Linked DNA regions of Homo sapiens. The protein of the gene in region 1 purifies or fractionates together with the protein of each later gene. This does not show direct contact. Each region holds a gene or a part of one and is shown in the gene's direction. Other genes may lie near its edges.

Region 1 (3,500 bases):
TGGGGACTTGATCTTATTTAAGGTCTCCAAATAGCCCCCACCACACTTAGAACGTGTGTTTTCTTAGTGTTAGAAGCCAGGCCCTGAGTCCCCAGCACTCACCTGAACTGTGGCTGATTTGGTCCCAGTCCAGCTGGGGAGGTGTTTGGCTGACAAGGAGGCAAGAGATCCCCTCCCAGGGAACAGGAGGACTGGGCTTAGCACAGAGCCATCATCATGTTCCCAATTTGTGAAGAGACTCCTAACACTGCACTAACCCATTTGTGTACATACATGGGCTCAGCCCTGGGCCAAATGTGCCTGATGGGAACAGACTTGCAGGGCCATGCAGGCCAGACTTCGTGCCTTAACTGAAGAGTGTGCGTGTGTGTGTGTGAGAGAGAGAGAGAGAGAGAAACACGCATCATGGGTCCCTGATCTATGAAATGAACACAACCTCTCTGAGGCTGGATGATCTGGAGGAAGGGGGCATGGAGCAAATTTGAGGCTCTGATTGCTGAGCCAGCCTCCTCCCAGGCGGTTTCCCCAGGACTCTCGTAGGAAATAAATAGCCCTTTCAAGATTCCTCAGCTGCCTCACCCCCTGCACATGTGCCTGGGGTGTGGCCTAGAAGGGAGTGATGTTCTTACTCTGGTGGTCTGTGCTTCTGAACACAGGCTACATGCACACACTGACAACTACCAATAAACAGACAGGGGAAGGTCTTTCATCTCAGCCATTTTCTCTTCCCCCCGCCCCCCCTTAGATGGAGTCTTGCTCTGTCACCCAGGTTGGAGTGCAGTGGCACAATCAGCTCACTGCAACCCCTCCTCCTAGGTTCAAGCGATTGAGTAGCTGAGATTACAGGCATGCATCACTATGCCTGGCTTTTTGTATTTTTTAGTAGAGATGGGGTTTACCATGTTGGCCAGGCTAGTCTCAAACTCCTGACCTAGTGATGCACCCACCTTGGCCTCCCAAAGTGTTGGGATTACAGGCATGAGCCACCACGCCAGCCATTTTCTCTTTCTAAGAAGAGCAACCTCAGCCGGAGTGAGTTTTTTCTGACTTTGCAGCTGAGTCTGGAGAAAAGTGGCATGCCAGAGCGGGTCGGTGGGAAACAGGGTGAACTTTAGCTTCCATCAACAGCTCTGGTAGCAAAACCAGTCCCCTACCCCCTAGAGAATGCATCCGTTTCCCCACCTGATATGGTTTGGCTGTGTCCCCACCTAAAACTCATCTTGAATTGTAGCTCCCATAATTGCCATGTGTTGTGGGAAGGACCCAGTGGGAGATAATTGAAATATGGGGGCAGTTTCCGCCATACTGTTCTGGTGATAGTGAATAGATCTCATGAGAGCTGATGATTTTATAAGAGGTTTCCCCTTTTGCTTAGTTCTCATTCTCTCTTGCCTGCCGCCATGTAAGACGTGCCTTTCTGTCATGCTTGTGAGGCCTCCCCAGCCACGTGGAGCTGTGAGTTCATTAAACCTCTTTTTCTTTATAAATTACCCAGTCTTGGTTATGTCTTTATCAGCACTGTGAAAATGAACCTATACAGTAAATTGGTACCAGTAGAGTGGGGCGCTGCTGTAAATACCCAAAAATGTGGAAGCAACTTTGGAACTGGGTAACAGGCAGAGGTTGGAACAGTTTGGAGGGATCAGAAGACAGGAAAATGTGGGAAAGTTTGGGACTTCCTAGAGACTTGTTAAATGGCTTTGACCAAAATGCTGATAATGATTGGGACATGAAATCCAGGCTGAGTTGGTCTCAGATAGCGATGAGGAACTTGTTTGGTACTGGAGTAAAGGTGACTCTTGCTATATTTTAGCAAAGAGACTGGCTGCATTTTGCCCCTGCCCTAGAGATTTGTGGAACTTTGAACTCGAGGGAGATGATTTAGGGTATCTGGCAGAAGAAATTTCTAAGCAGCAAAGCATTCATGAGGTGACTTGGGTGCTGTTAAAAGCATTCAGTTTTAAAAGGGAAACAGACTATAAAAGTTTGGAAAATTTGCAGCCTGATGATGAGATAGAAAAGAAAAACCCATTTTCTGAGGATAAATTCAAGCCCCCTGCAGAAATTTGCATAAGTAACAAGGAGCCAAATGTTAATCACTAAGACATGGGGAAAATGTCTGCAGGGCATGTCAGAGACCTTTGCAGCAGTGCCTCCCATCACAGGCCTGGAGGCCTAGGAGGGAAAAAATGGTTTTGTGGGCCAGGCCCAAGGTCCCCTTGCTGTGTGCAGCCCAGGGACTTGGTACCATGCATCCCAGCTGCTCTAGTCATGGCTAAAAGGGGCCAAGATACAGCTCAGGCCTTGGCTTCAGAGGGTGCAAGCCCCAAGTCTTGGCATCTTCCACGTAGTGTTGAGCCTGCAGGTGCACAGAAGTCAAGAACTGAGGTTTGGGAACCTCTGCCTAGATTTCAGAGAATGTATGGAAATGCATGTATGTCCAGGCAGAAGTTTGCTACAGGAGTGAGGCCCTCATGGAGAACCTCTGTTAAGGCAATGTGGAAGGGGAAGCCCCCACACAGAGACCCCACTGGGACACTGCCTAGTAGAGCTGTCAGAAGAAGGCCACCGTCCTCCAGACATCAGAATGGTATATCCACTGACAGCTTGCACCATGCACCTGGAAAAGCCACAGACACTCAACGCCAGCCTGTAAAAGCAACCGAGAAGTAGGCTGTACCCTGCAATGCCATAGGGGTGGAGCTGCCCAAGACCATGGGAACCCACCTCCTGCATCAGTGTGACCTGGATGTGAGACATGGAGTCAAAGGAGACCATTTTGGAGCTTTAAGATTTAACTGCCCTGCTGGATTTCAGACTTGCATGGGGCCTTTAGCCACTTCGTTTTGGCCAACTTCTCCCACTTGAAATGGGTGTATTTAGCCAATGCCTGTACCTCCGTTGTATCTAGGAAGTAACTAACTAGCCTTTGATTTTACAGGCTCATAGGTGGAAGGGACTTGCCTTGTTTCAGATGAGACTTTGGAGTATGGACTTTTGAGTTAATGCTGAAATGAGTTAAGACTTTGGGGGACTGTTGGGAAGGCATGATTGATTTTTAAATGAGAGGACATGAGATTTGGGAGGGGCCAGGGAGAGAATGATATGGTTTGGCTGTGTCCCCATCCAAATATCACCTTAAATTGTAGCTCCCATAATTGTGGGAGGGACCTGGTGGGAGATAATTGAATCATAGGGGCAGTTTCTCCCATACTGTTCTGGTGGTAGTGAATAAGTCTCACGAGATCTGATGGTTTAATAAGGGGTTTCCCCTTTTGCTTGGCTCTCATTCTCTCTTGTCTGCTGCCATGTAAGATGTGCCTTTTGCCTTCCACCATGATTGTGAGGCCTCCCAGCCACATGGAACTGTGAGTTCATTAAACCTCTTTTTCTTCATAAATTACCCAGTCTCGGGTATGTCTTTATCAGCAGTGTGAAAACAGACTAATACACCACTCCTCTACCTTCTTTATTTTCTCAGTGTGGAAAATGCCTGATGA
Region 2 (2,960 bases), on another chromosome or scaffold:
CTGTTCCAACTGAGTTCTTCGATTTCTTCTCTACTAGGGCATCAGTCATTCTCGCTGGGCTTGGCTTTACCCCTAAAATGCAGCAGCAGCCCACCCGGTGAGTGACCCTTGCCATTCTTGGCTTTGAACCCTGTTGTCTCAGCCCCTTCCTGCCCTGATGAACACCCACCCATAATGTGACTCCATCATTCTTTAGGGAGTTCTCAGGTGGCTGGAGGATGAGGCTGGCCCTGGCCCGGGCCCTCTTTGCTAGGTGAGTCTCCTGGGCCAGTGTATGAAGCCCTATGGAAGATTGGTCTTAGCTCTTGGGAGGTGGCATGAGTTGCTGACCTAAAACCTCAGGCCATGTATTGTTTTTCATAGGCCAGATCTTCTGCTGTTAGATGGTGAGTTTGAAATGGGGCACCCTGACTTTAGGATGGGCAGGGGTGGTAGCATCCAAGTTCCTAGTTCTCCAGCCCTTCAATCCCAAGTGTGTGCTCCCCTGCTTCTCCAGAACCTACAAACATGCTGGATGTCAGGGCCATCCTGTGGCTGGAGAATTACCTGCAGGTGAGTGCCTGTGGGTGCTGGAGTGTGTTGGGGAAAGGCGGCCTCCAAGATACCTGGGGGCCTGAGAACTGACTGCCCTCCCAAACCGGGCCTGCTGTCCTGTGACCCCTCAGACGTGGCCCTCCACCATCCTAGTCGTCTCCCACGACCGCAACTTCTTGAATGCCATCGCCACAGACATCATCCACCTGCACAGCCAGCGGCTAGATGGTTACCGGGGAGACTTTGAGACCTTCATCAAGAGTAAGCAGGAGCGGCTGCTCAACCAGCAGCGTGAATATGAGGCGCAGCAGCAGTATCGCCAGCACATCCAGGTGTGGGGCCTGGCAGGGCTGGGGGTCCCATCCCAGGGGTTCCAGAGTGGGGGATAGTGGGGGAATTTGACCAATGCCTACACTCCTCCACCTGCAGGTTTTCATTGACCGGTTTCGCTACAATGCCAACAGGGCCTCTCAAGTGCAGAGTAAACTCAAGATGCTGGAGAAGCTGTGAGTACAGCATCCTTGGCCAGGGCCTGACTCCTGTTCTCTTCGTCTCCTTCCGCATTTGCACGCCACCCTTGCCCTACCATTCTAGGTCTCCCCTTCGCTAGAAGCCAACTGTGACTTCCTCCTCTGCTGGGAAGCAGAGTATTCCACACTGTTCTTGGAGGGCTAATCTTGACTAGCACATGGCAACCACTAATTTACTTTCTGTTTCTGCTTCTACGTATCTGCTTATTCTGGGCATTTCATATAAATGGAATCATACAATATGACCTTTGTGCCTGGTGTCTTTTACCTGGCGTCATGTGTGAGGCTCATCCATATTGTAGCGTGCGTCAGAGCTTCATTTCTTTTCGTGGCTGGATAATATTCTGTTGTGTGGATATACAGCATTTTGTTTATTGAGTCATGAGGGGCCATTTGGGTTGTTTCCATTTTGGTTATTATGAATAATGTTGCTGTGAACATTGGTGTACAAATTTTTGTGTGGACATATGTTTTCAGCTTGCTTGGGTGTATACCTAGGCGCAGAATTGCTGGGTTACCTGGTAATTCCAAATTAATGTTTTGAGGAACTGTCAAACTGTTTTCTAAAGCAACAACATCATTTTACATTCCTACCAACAAGGGATGAGAGTTCCAATTTCTCCATGTCTTTGGCAGCACTGTTATTGACTTTTTTTTTTTTAGTTTTAGCCATCCTAGTGGCTGTGAAGTGATAGCTCATTGTGGTTTTGATTTGCATTGCCTTAATAACTAATGATAATGTGCATTGGGAGTTTAATTTTGAAGTGCCCTTTCTATAAGTGCTGGCAGGAAGCTTAAAATCATAAAGCTTAGATGTTTGCGACGTGGAAACATATCACAATATAGTAACTGGGGATAAAAAGTCACAAAAAGCCTAATTCTATTTTTTAGCATACAGTAAATGAGAAGAATGGACTCTAAAGTAATGATACCTGAGTGGTAGGAGTACAAGCCCTTTCTAAGTTTTCTCTGAACATATATTACTCGTGTAGGAAGTTATTTTTTTAAGTAATAAATCTAGTCTACCTCATCTCTTCTCCCAGGCCTGAGCTGAAGCCTGTGGACAAGGAATCAGAGGTCGTAATGAAGTAAGTGCTGGGCCAGTGGGGCTGGTGGGGAATTGCTTGCTTCCAGCTGCCCCCACATCCTCACCCCTACCTCCTGCAGGTTCCCTGATGGGTTTGAGAAGTTCTCGCCGCCAATTCTGCAGCTAGATGAGGTGGATTTCTACTACGATCCGAAGCACGTCATCTTCAGTCGCCTCTCTGTGTCTGCTGATCTCGAGTCTCGCATCTGTGTGGTAAGGCTGCTGTTTCTCTGTGCTGCGAGCTGGGACTCTCCTGTCTAAGTGTGTGGTGTGGATTGGCCCAGATCCTCAGGCTGTAAAGGGACGAGGTCTGTGGAACAGGAGTGAGGGCCCGGGCTAAGGATTTTGCAGGACTTACACTAGCCCTGTCCTCTGGCCGCACAGCGCTGCTCTTCAGGGAGGAAGAGCCTAGTGTATAGTGTTTTAAAAATACTTAAAAATACTTAAAGCAGTGCTTTACCTTATTGGTCTCGGTTCTGAGTTTTCTAAACCTGGAGACATTGAGGAGAGAGCATGGGCTTCAGGGTCAGACTTCGGATCTTGACTATGCCATTTCCTAGCTTGGTTACCAAGCAGCTTCCTAACTCTTAAGATGGCGCTGACATCTACCTCACTTGGTTCTTGGGAAAAGTAAGTCCCCAGCACTTAGCAAATACTCAAGTATTGCTCACCTTAGTATATGCATTTTTCTGTAGAGTTAGAGTTCCTTTTTTTTTTTTTTCGGAGACAGAGTCCTGCCCTGTTGCCCCGGCTGGAGTGCAATGGCACAATCTTGGCTCACCGCAGCTTTCGCCTCCCGGGTTCAAACA
Region 3 (3,807 bases), on another chromosome or scaffold:
AATCCAGCTCCTGGTTCCAAGTTATAAACCTGGCTCTGGCCCTTGTCTGGAGAAGACAGCCTATGCTGGTCTCCTTAGTACATGAAGGCTTGGTTGCCACTGTCTGCTGCCAGACTGAGAACCATGAAACCATGGCATAGCCTTACTCATTACTTTGTTTCTTTGCTTTTTTTGGATCCATAAAGGTATTTGTTCCCAGCATTTTATTATAAAAATTTTCAAACATACAGAATACTAGAAAGAATTACACAGTGAACACACATCTGCCCATCACTTAGATTCTACAATCAGCATTTTACTGTAATTTCTCTATTACATATCTGTCCACATTAATCCACTCTTTTATCCATACATTGGTCTATCTTATTTCACGATGCCCTTCAAAGTGAGTTGTACTCTTCACCTGTAAGTTCTAAAACATTACATATTACTGATTAGAGTTCAGTGTTTGTTTTCGTTTATAGTTTTTTGAAGTAACATTTACATATAAGATACACAAATCTTATTTTTTATTTATTTATTTTTTTTGAGATGGAGTCTTGCTCTGTCGCTCAGGCTGGAGTGCAATGGCGCGATCTTGGCTCACTGCAAGCTCAGACTCCCAGGTTCACGCCATTCTCCTGCTTCAGCCTCCCGAGTAGCTGGGACTGCAGGCGCCCACCACCACGCCTGGCTAATTTGTGTGTGTGTGTGTATGTGTGTGTGTGTGTATTTTTAGTAGAGACGGGATTTCACTGTGTTAATCAGGACGGTCTCGATCTCCTGGCCTCATGATCCATCCGCCTCGGCCTCCCAAAGTGCTGGGATTACAGGTGTGAGCCACCGCACCCGGCCAAGATGTACAAATCTTAAGTGTACCATTTACCAAGTGTTATCAAACACATCATCTATACAGCTTAAGCCTCTGTCAAGATACTGAACGTTACCGTCAATTTTCTTATGCTCTTTCCCAGTCAGTCCTACTCCTGTACTTCCGGAAGCAACCATTGTTCTCATTTTTATTTCTACCATAAATTTGTTGTGCCTGCTCTAGAATTTTATATTAGAGAAGGATACAGCATTTATTCTTTTGTGTAAGGCTTCTTTTGCATAGCACGATGTTTCTGAAATTTATCCATTTGATTGTAGTAATAAGTTGTTCCTTTTCACTGCTGAATACTTCTATTCTTTTCTTTAAATATACCACAGTTTGTTTACTCATTTCAGCGGAGTCTTTCTTTTTTCTTAAAGCATATGGGACTCAGGTATCTGTGGGGTCTTTTTAATTTTTCTTTTTCTTTTTTATCTATCACTGATATGTATTTGGAGAGAAGGGAGTGCATCAAATAGGCTCCTAACTGTGCCGTCTTTAACTAAAATTTCCTAGTTTAACTGGTGTGTATTAATTTTAGATTATTTTATGTAAATTGAGTAAAGTAGCTGTTTTTTAATTTTATTGGGAATTGAATTTAGCCCCTTTCATTTTCCTTTTAATTCTGTTCCATGGGCATTGTCAGAGTTTACATTTTTACATGAAATTTAAAAGTAGAAGATATATAAATGAAGAGCTATAGTTGGTGTTTTAAAAGTTCCATTGTCCTGGCTGGGTATGGTGGCTCACGCCTGTAATCCCAGCACTTTGGGAGGCTGAGGTGGGCGGATCACCTAAGGTCAGGAGTTCGAGACCAGCCTGGTCAATATGGTGAAACCCCGTCTCTACTAAAAATACAAAAATTACCTGGGCATGGTGGCACATGCCTGTAATCTCAGCTACTTGGGAGGCTGAGGCAGGAGAATTGCTTTAACCCGGGAGGCAGAGGTTATAGTGAGCCAAGATCACGCCATTGCACTCCAGCCTGGGCAACAAGAATGAAACTCCATCTCAAAAAAAAAAAAAGTTCCGTTGTCCCATAAATCATATTAGTCTGCCTCTTTTTTCTTTTGAGAGACGAAATCTTGCTCTGTTGCCCAGGCTGGAGTCCAGTGGCACGATCTCGGCTCACTGCAACCTCTGCCTTCCGGGTTCAAGCCAGTCTCCTGCCTCAGCTTCCCAAGTAGCTGGGTCTACAGGTCCACGCCACCATGCCCAGCTAATTTTTGTATTTTTATTAATGACAGGGTTTCACTATGTTTTGGCCAGGCTGGTCTCGAACTCCTGACCTCAAGTGATCCTCCCACCTTGGCCTCCCAAAGTGCTGGGATTACAGGCATGAGCCACCACACCCGGCCAATAGTCTGCCTCTTGAATATATATTTCTTTTTCACATTTAAAAAAATTCAATAAGTTCATCATGTGTTTGCTGTTAAATTAAGTATAATTTATCTATAATCTCCATACTCCTTTGGTGTTATCAACAGTATTAACAATAGAACTCTTTGTTTTCAAGAATGTGTTGATTCAGCCAGCTGAACAATACCTAGTCCTTCCTTGATATCTGAGGGGGATTGATTCTAGGATACCCACCCCCCATATTCTAGGATGCTTAAGTCCCTTATATAACATTACATAGTATTTGCATATAACCTACACACGTCCTTCTGTACACTTCAAATTATCTCTAGATTACTTACACCTAATGTAAATGCTGTGTAAACAGTTGTTATACTGTATTGGTTTTGAATTTGTAGTATTTTTTATTGTTATTTTTTATTCTTCCCCCTCGTCCCCAAATATTTTTGATGTGCACTTGGTTCATACAGAGGGCCAACTGTTTTGCAGTTCTGTGGGATCTCTAAAATAACGTAAATTGAGAAATTTAACCTCTTTCTGACACTTAATGCTAAAAGGAATCGCTAATGAAGCACAACAGATTTTACACATAACATAAAGTTTCAACATTTGTTAAAATAATATTTTATTTTTTACCTTTTTTTAGGTTTGGTTGGGATGTTCCAGTAATTCTGAGAAATTCAGAAGAGACCCAGTTCAGCACAAGAGTTTTCAAAAAGCAAATGAGACAAGTCAAGAATCCTTTTGGCTTAGAGATCACTAATCCATCTTCAGCTTCAATTACAAGTTGGTGGCTGTTTTCCAAAGATTTTCTCTCATTGTTTGCCCTCTTTTTTTAGCCCTTTTATTTTCTTTCTCTATTTCTTTCCCTTCATTAGACTTTTAACAAACATTTGTTGGGCAACTATGTTGTTCCAGGTGCTGTACTGTATATGACAGATACAAAGATTAAGAAGTTACAAACTTTACTCCTGAAGAATTTATCACCTAGTAAACAGAGGTAGATGTGTATACAAAGGAGTAGAATGAAGTATTACAGGTGTTAATAGTGAAGTCTCTTAGGACACTATGCCATTTTTATTGGTCTGTAGTAAAGTGAGAAATGATGTGTTATGTCTAAATACAGTTAACGTAAGGTTGCTAACCTTTTGAGGAACAATTGCCTTTTTATTTTTTTTGAGACAGATTCTTACTCTGTCATCCAGGCTGGAGTGCAATGGCACAATCTCGGCTCACTACAGCCTCCACCTCCCGGGTTCAAGCGATTCTCCTGCCTCAGCCTCCCAAGTCACTGAGATTACAGGCATGCACCACCACACCTGGCTAATTTTTGTTTTTTTAGTAGAGACAGTGTTTCACCATGTTGACCAGGCTGGTCTCAAACTCCTGACCTCAGATGATCCACCCACCTCAGCCTCCCAAAGTGCTGGGATTACAGGTGTGAGCCACTGCGCGCGGCCAGAATGATTGTCATTTAATCTGAAACTATGGTATTTTGGTATAAATTATTTTGATATAACATGTTCTTTTGTAGATGGTAGGTAATAGATGGCAGTTGTTTGCTTTTGTACTTGCTTGGAAAAATAAGTTGTCTGCAG
Region 4 (3,807 bases), on another chromosome or scaffold:
GAATTATGGAGAGGGAGTCTGGTGAGCCACGAGAACTCCAACATTTAATGTTTGTGTAGAAGATGATGAACTGGTCCAGAAAACTGAGACAGAGCAGCCAGAAAGGTTAGGAAAACCAGAAGTGGCATAGGCTTATGGAAGCCAGTGAAAAAGAAGACTTTAAGAAGGGGATGGGCGCCTGTAATCCCAGCACTTTGGGAGGCCGAGGTGGGCAGATCACTTGAAGTCAGGAGTTCAAGACCAGTCTGGCCAACATGATGAAATCCCGTCTCCACTAAAAATACAAAAATTAGCCTGGTGTGGTGGCGCACCCCTGTAGTCCCAGCTACTTGGGAGGCTGAGGCAGGAGAATCGCTTGAACCTGGAAGGCAGTGGCAGAAGGAAGATCATGCCACTGCACTCCAGCCTGGGCAACACAGCAAGCCTGTCTCAAAAAAATGAAGGGGATGGGGTGGGTGTGGTGGCTCATGCCTGTAATCCTAATACTTTGGGAGGCCAAGGTGGGAAGATTGTTTGATGCCAGGAGTTCAAGACCAGCCTGGTCAACATAGGGAGACCCCATCTCTAAAAAAGAAGGGGGTGGTCAACGATGTTAAGTGCTGCTGAGAGGATGAGTCTTGGCTCTGCTGATTCCTGACTTGAGTTTCCAGTCAGAAATACACAGAGGTCCTTAGCACTGTCTACTCTAGAGCCTTCTTAGATCTGTGAGATGGAAGTATAAATTACTGTGAGCAGTACTTCTGATGTCACCATGGGCAAAAGAGTCCATATGTGAAGGTCACATGCTTATTTACATCCTTTTCTGTTTTGGGCTATTCTGCAAAATCAAGTCCTGTCTTACCCTCTCTTCATGCCACCCCCAACCAGGCTCTGGCGTTACGACGTATTCTGTACACCCTGGCACAGTCCAATCTGAACTGGTTCGGCACTCATCTTTCATGAGATGGATGTGGTGGCTTTTCTCCTTTTTCATCAAGACTCCTCAGCAGGGAGCCCAGACCAGCCTGCACTGTGCCTTAACAGAAGGTCTTGAGATTCTAAGTGGGAATCATTTCAGGTATGAATGTTATCTCTTTTTGCAGATGAGATTTATTGCTCAAAGGAGATAATTTGGGTTTGTCTGGGTATACCCTTTTTTAAAAGTACATTGTCTCATATAGCTTTTGTCTTTTAACTCTAGAGTTTTTACCTTTTAGTAGGGGAATTTGACTCTCTTTTGTAATAACTGCTACATTTGATTTTATGCCATCTTTTATACTGATAATTATGCATTCTGTTTGTTTTCTTCCTGTCTTTGTTATGTCAGTCCAGTTTTCTTTATTCTTTTTTGGATTCCTAATTCTATTGTTTTACATTAAAAAGAATTTAAAAAGAATTTGAGGCCAGGCGCAGTGGCTTACGCCTGTAATCTCAGCACTTTGGGAGGCCAAGGTGGGCAGATCACCTAAGGTCAGGTGAAACTCCGCCTCAAAAAAAAAAAAAAAGAATTTGAATCTGCATTTCTCTATTGTCCTCAGGATTGAAATACTATGGACTCCCCTCTCAAATAAGCGAAGACATTTAAAATGATTTAAATGTAGAGAATTTTGAATATAACACAGGGTTAGATAAAATAGTGCACTGAGCCTGCATATAATGGAGCCTCAGCTACCATTAACCCATGGCCAATTCTGCCCTATCCCCATTCTCTACCCCTTTCCATATTTTTCTTCTCCCATATTATTTTGAAGCAAATCCCAGGCATCACATAAGATCAAAATTTTAACATGTTTTTACCTCTACTTCAGGTTATTGTTGAAATGACCTGAAATTTTAAGGAAGTAGCTGAAAATAGCATTAAGATTGGAAAGAAAGGCAGACAGATTATGAGAGGCCTATAATGCCAGCCTTGTGGAGGAGCCCCAGAGTTGTTTCAGTAGACAGACAAAATCTGGTCTGTGCTTTAGCAACTTTGTTTCATGAATGAATAATTAACCTAGTGAGAGAGAGAGTTTCAGAAAGTTGTAATGAAAGGAATGGTAATGTGAAAGAGGCCCTGAAGCAGCAGAATTTTTATCACTGGATGATTAATTAAATGAGGGGATGAGGGAGGCTTTGCTAACCTGAATTTCAAGCCTGAATGAGGTTGATGATGACATTAACTAAGACAGCAGACATGGAAAAGTAATGTGTGGAACTTAGGGTTCTTGGATTCCAAAGCAGTTGAAAGGGACTTTGTCTAGCTTAAGCAAGAAGGAAATTTATTAAAATATTAGTAGGGAGAGGAGGGACCCCTAGGTTGAAAGGGAAGACTGAAGAGCCAGGCTAAGAAGTGTCAGAGTGGCAGTCAGCCAGCCGGGGCATTGCTGCTAGAGTGAGCGAATGCCAGCTATCTTTAGTGTTTAGGTTGTATTGCTTATCATCCATTCTCTAGGGAGGAAGCATTGGATCTCCTTCCTCCTATCCCTTCATTTTTACTCTTTTGATTAGAGGCAAACAGGGACTTTATTAATGCTCTCTTCAAACTATATTGAGGGGAAAAGGTGATTCTGCAGAAGGAAATCAGGTTGCTATTGCCGAAACAAAGTAGAATGTTCAGCCAAAGAGTAACAGTTGTCCACTGTGTAACAAACCTGGCTCTGTACATGTTGCATGTGTGTTATCTATAAGGCATGCAAGTAGAAATGTATAGCAGATAGTTGGAAATGTGGTTCTGAAGTATAAGAAGATAGATTTATATAGTATACTGGATTGATTTTCCAAGAGTGACTGGATTCTTCTTCCCTAGAGATTTTAAGAAAAAAAAAAATAACCCTTTATCTTGGTTTTGACTGAGTGGTTTAAAGAAAGTCAGCTCTAAATCCATAACTTACTATTGGATTGACTTTTGAAGAGCCTTTCCTGTGCTATGGATTCTTAATTCATTTTGAAGATCCAACAGCAGCCGTGTAGACCACCATCAAGAAATGAACATAAAAGTCTTTTGATTGAAGCCTTAAGATTTTTGCACTGGCTCTTCTTTCTGCCTGCAACCACTAGTCTGCTTTATGTCTCTAAGAATTTGCCTTTACTGGACATTTCATATAAATGGAATCATATGGTATGTGGCCTTTTGTGACTGACTTCTTTTACTCAGCTTAATGTTATCAAGGGTCATCCATGCTAAAGCATGTGTCAGTACTTCATTTCTTTTTATTGCTGGATAACATTTCATTGTATAGATTTGCCACATCTTATTTATTCATTCATCAGGTGATGGGCATTTGGGTTTGCACTTTTTAGCTATTTGAATAATACTGCTGTGACCATTTGTGTAGAAATTTTTGTGTGGACATTTCTCTTGGGTACATGGAAGTGGAATTTCTGGGTTATATGGTAACTGTGTTTAACTGCTGAGGAACTGCCAAACTTTTCCAAAATGACTGCCCCATTTTACATTCCCACCAGCAGTCTATGAGTATTCTAATTTCTTCACATCCTCAGCAACACTTGTTATTGTCTCTCCTTTTGAGTTTAGCCATCCTAGTGAGTATGAAGGAATATCTTGTTTTTATTTTCATTTCATTTTCCTACTAATGATGTTGAACATTCTTTCATGCGCTTTTTGGTTCATTTGTTTCTTTGTTGGGGAAATGTCTATCAAGTCCTTTGCCCATTTTTAAGTTGGATAATTGTCTTTTTATTGTTGAGTTACAAGAGTTCTTAATAGTCTAGATGCGAGTTCCTTGTCAGATATATAATTTGCAAATATTCTCTCATTCTGTGGGTTGTCTTTTAACTTTCTTAATGGTATCTTTTGAAATGTAAAACTTAAATTTTGATGAAGTC

Evidence for each region. Proteins that work in one complex are often made in the same cells at the same time.
Region 2: the proteins of MYORG (region 1) and ABCF3 purify together in Homo sapiens (co-immunoprecipitation; one large-scale study listed by IntAct). This does not show direct contact.
Region 3: the proteins of MYORG (region 1) and CGRRF1 purify together in Homo sapiens (affinity purification with mass spectrometry; 2 studies listed by BioGRID and IntAct, with this or other methods). This does not show direct contact.
Region 4: the proteins of MYORG (region 1) and RDH11 purify together in Homo sapiens (co-immunoprecipitation; one large-scale study listed by IntAct). This does not show direct contact.

Annotation. Positions count from the first base shown.
Region 1 is NC_000009.12:34,366,899-34,370,398, reverse strand, and holds part of MYORG (myogenesis-regulating glycosidase), read left to right. Parts: 3' UTR 1-3,500.
Region 2 is NC_000003.12:184,188,892-184,191,851, forward strand, and holds part of ABCF3 (ATP-binding cassette sub-family F member 3), read left to right. Parts: intron 1-37; coding exon 38-97; intron 98-196; coding exon 197-253; intron 254-363; coding exon 364-386; intron 387-496; coding exon 497-552; intron 553-665; coding exon 666-866; intron 867-963; coding exon 964-1,040; intron 1,041-2,107; coding exon 2,108-2,152; intron 2,153-2,231; coding exon 2,232-2,364; intron 2,365-2,960.
Region 3 is NC_000014.9:54,519,599-54,523,405, forward strand, and holds part of CGRRF1 (cell growth regulator with RING finger domain protein 1), read left to right. Parts: intron 1-2,855; coding exon 2,856-2,995; intron 2,996-3,807. UniProt on the Homo sapiens protein: Able to inhibit growth in several cell lines.
Region 4 is NC_000014.9:67,682,265-67,686,071, reverse strand, and holds part of RDH11 (retinol dehydrogenase 11), read left to right. Parts: intron 1-867; coding exon 868-1,057; intron 1,058-3,807. UniProt on the Homo sapiens protein: Retinol dehydrogenase with a clear preference for NADP. Displays high activity towards 9-cis, 11-cis and all-trans-retinol, and to a lesser extent on 13-cis-retinol.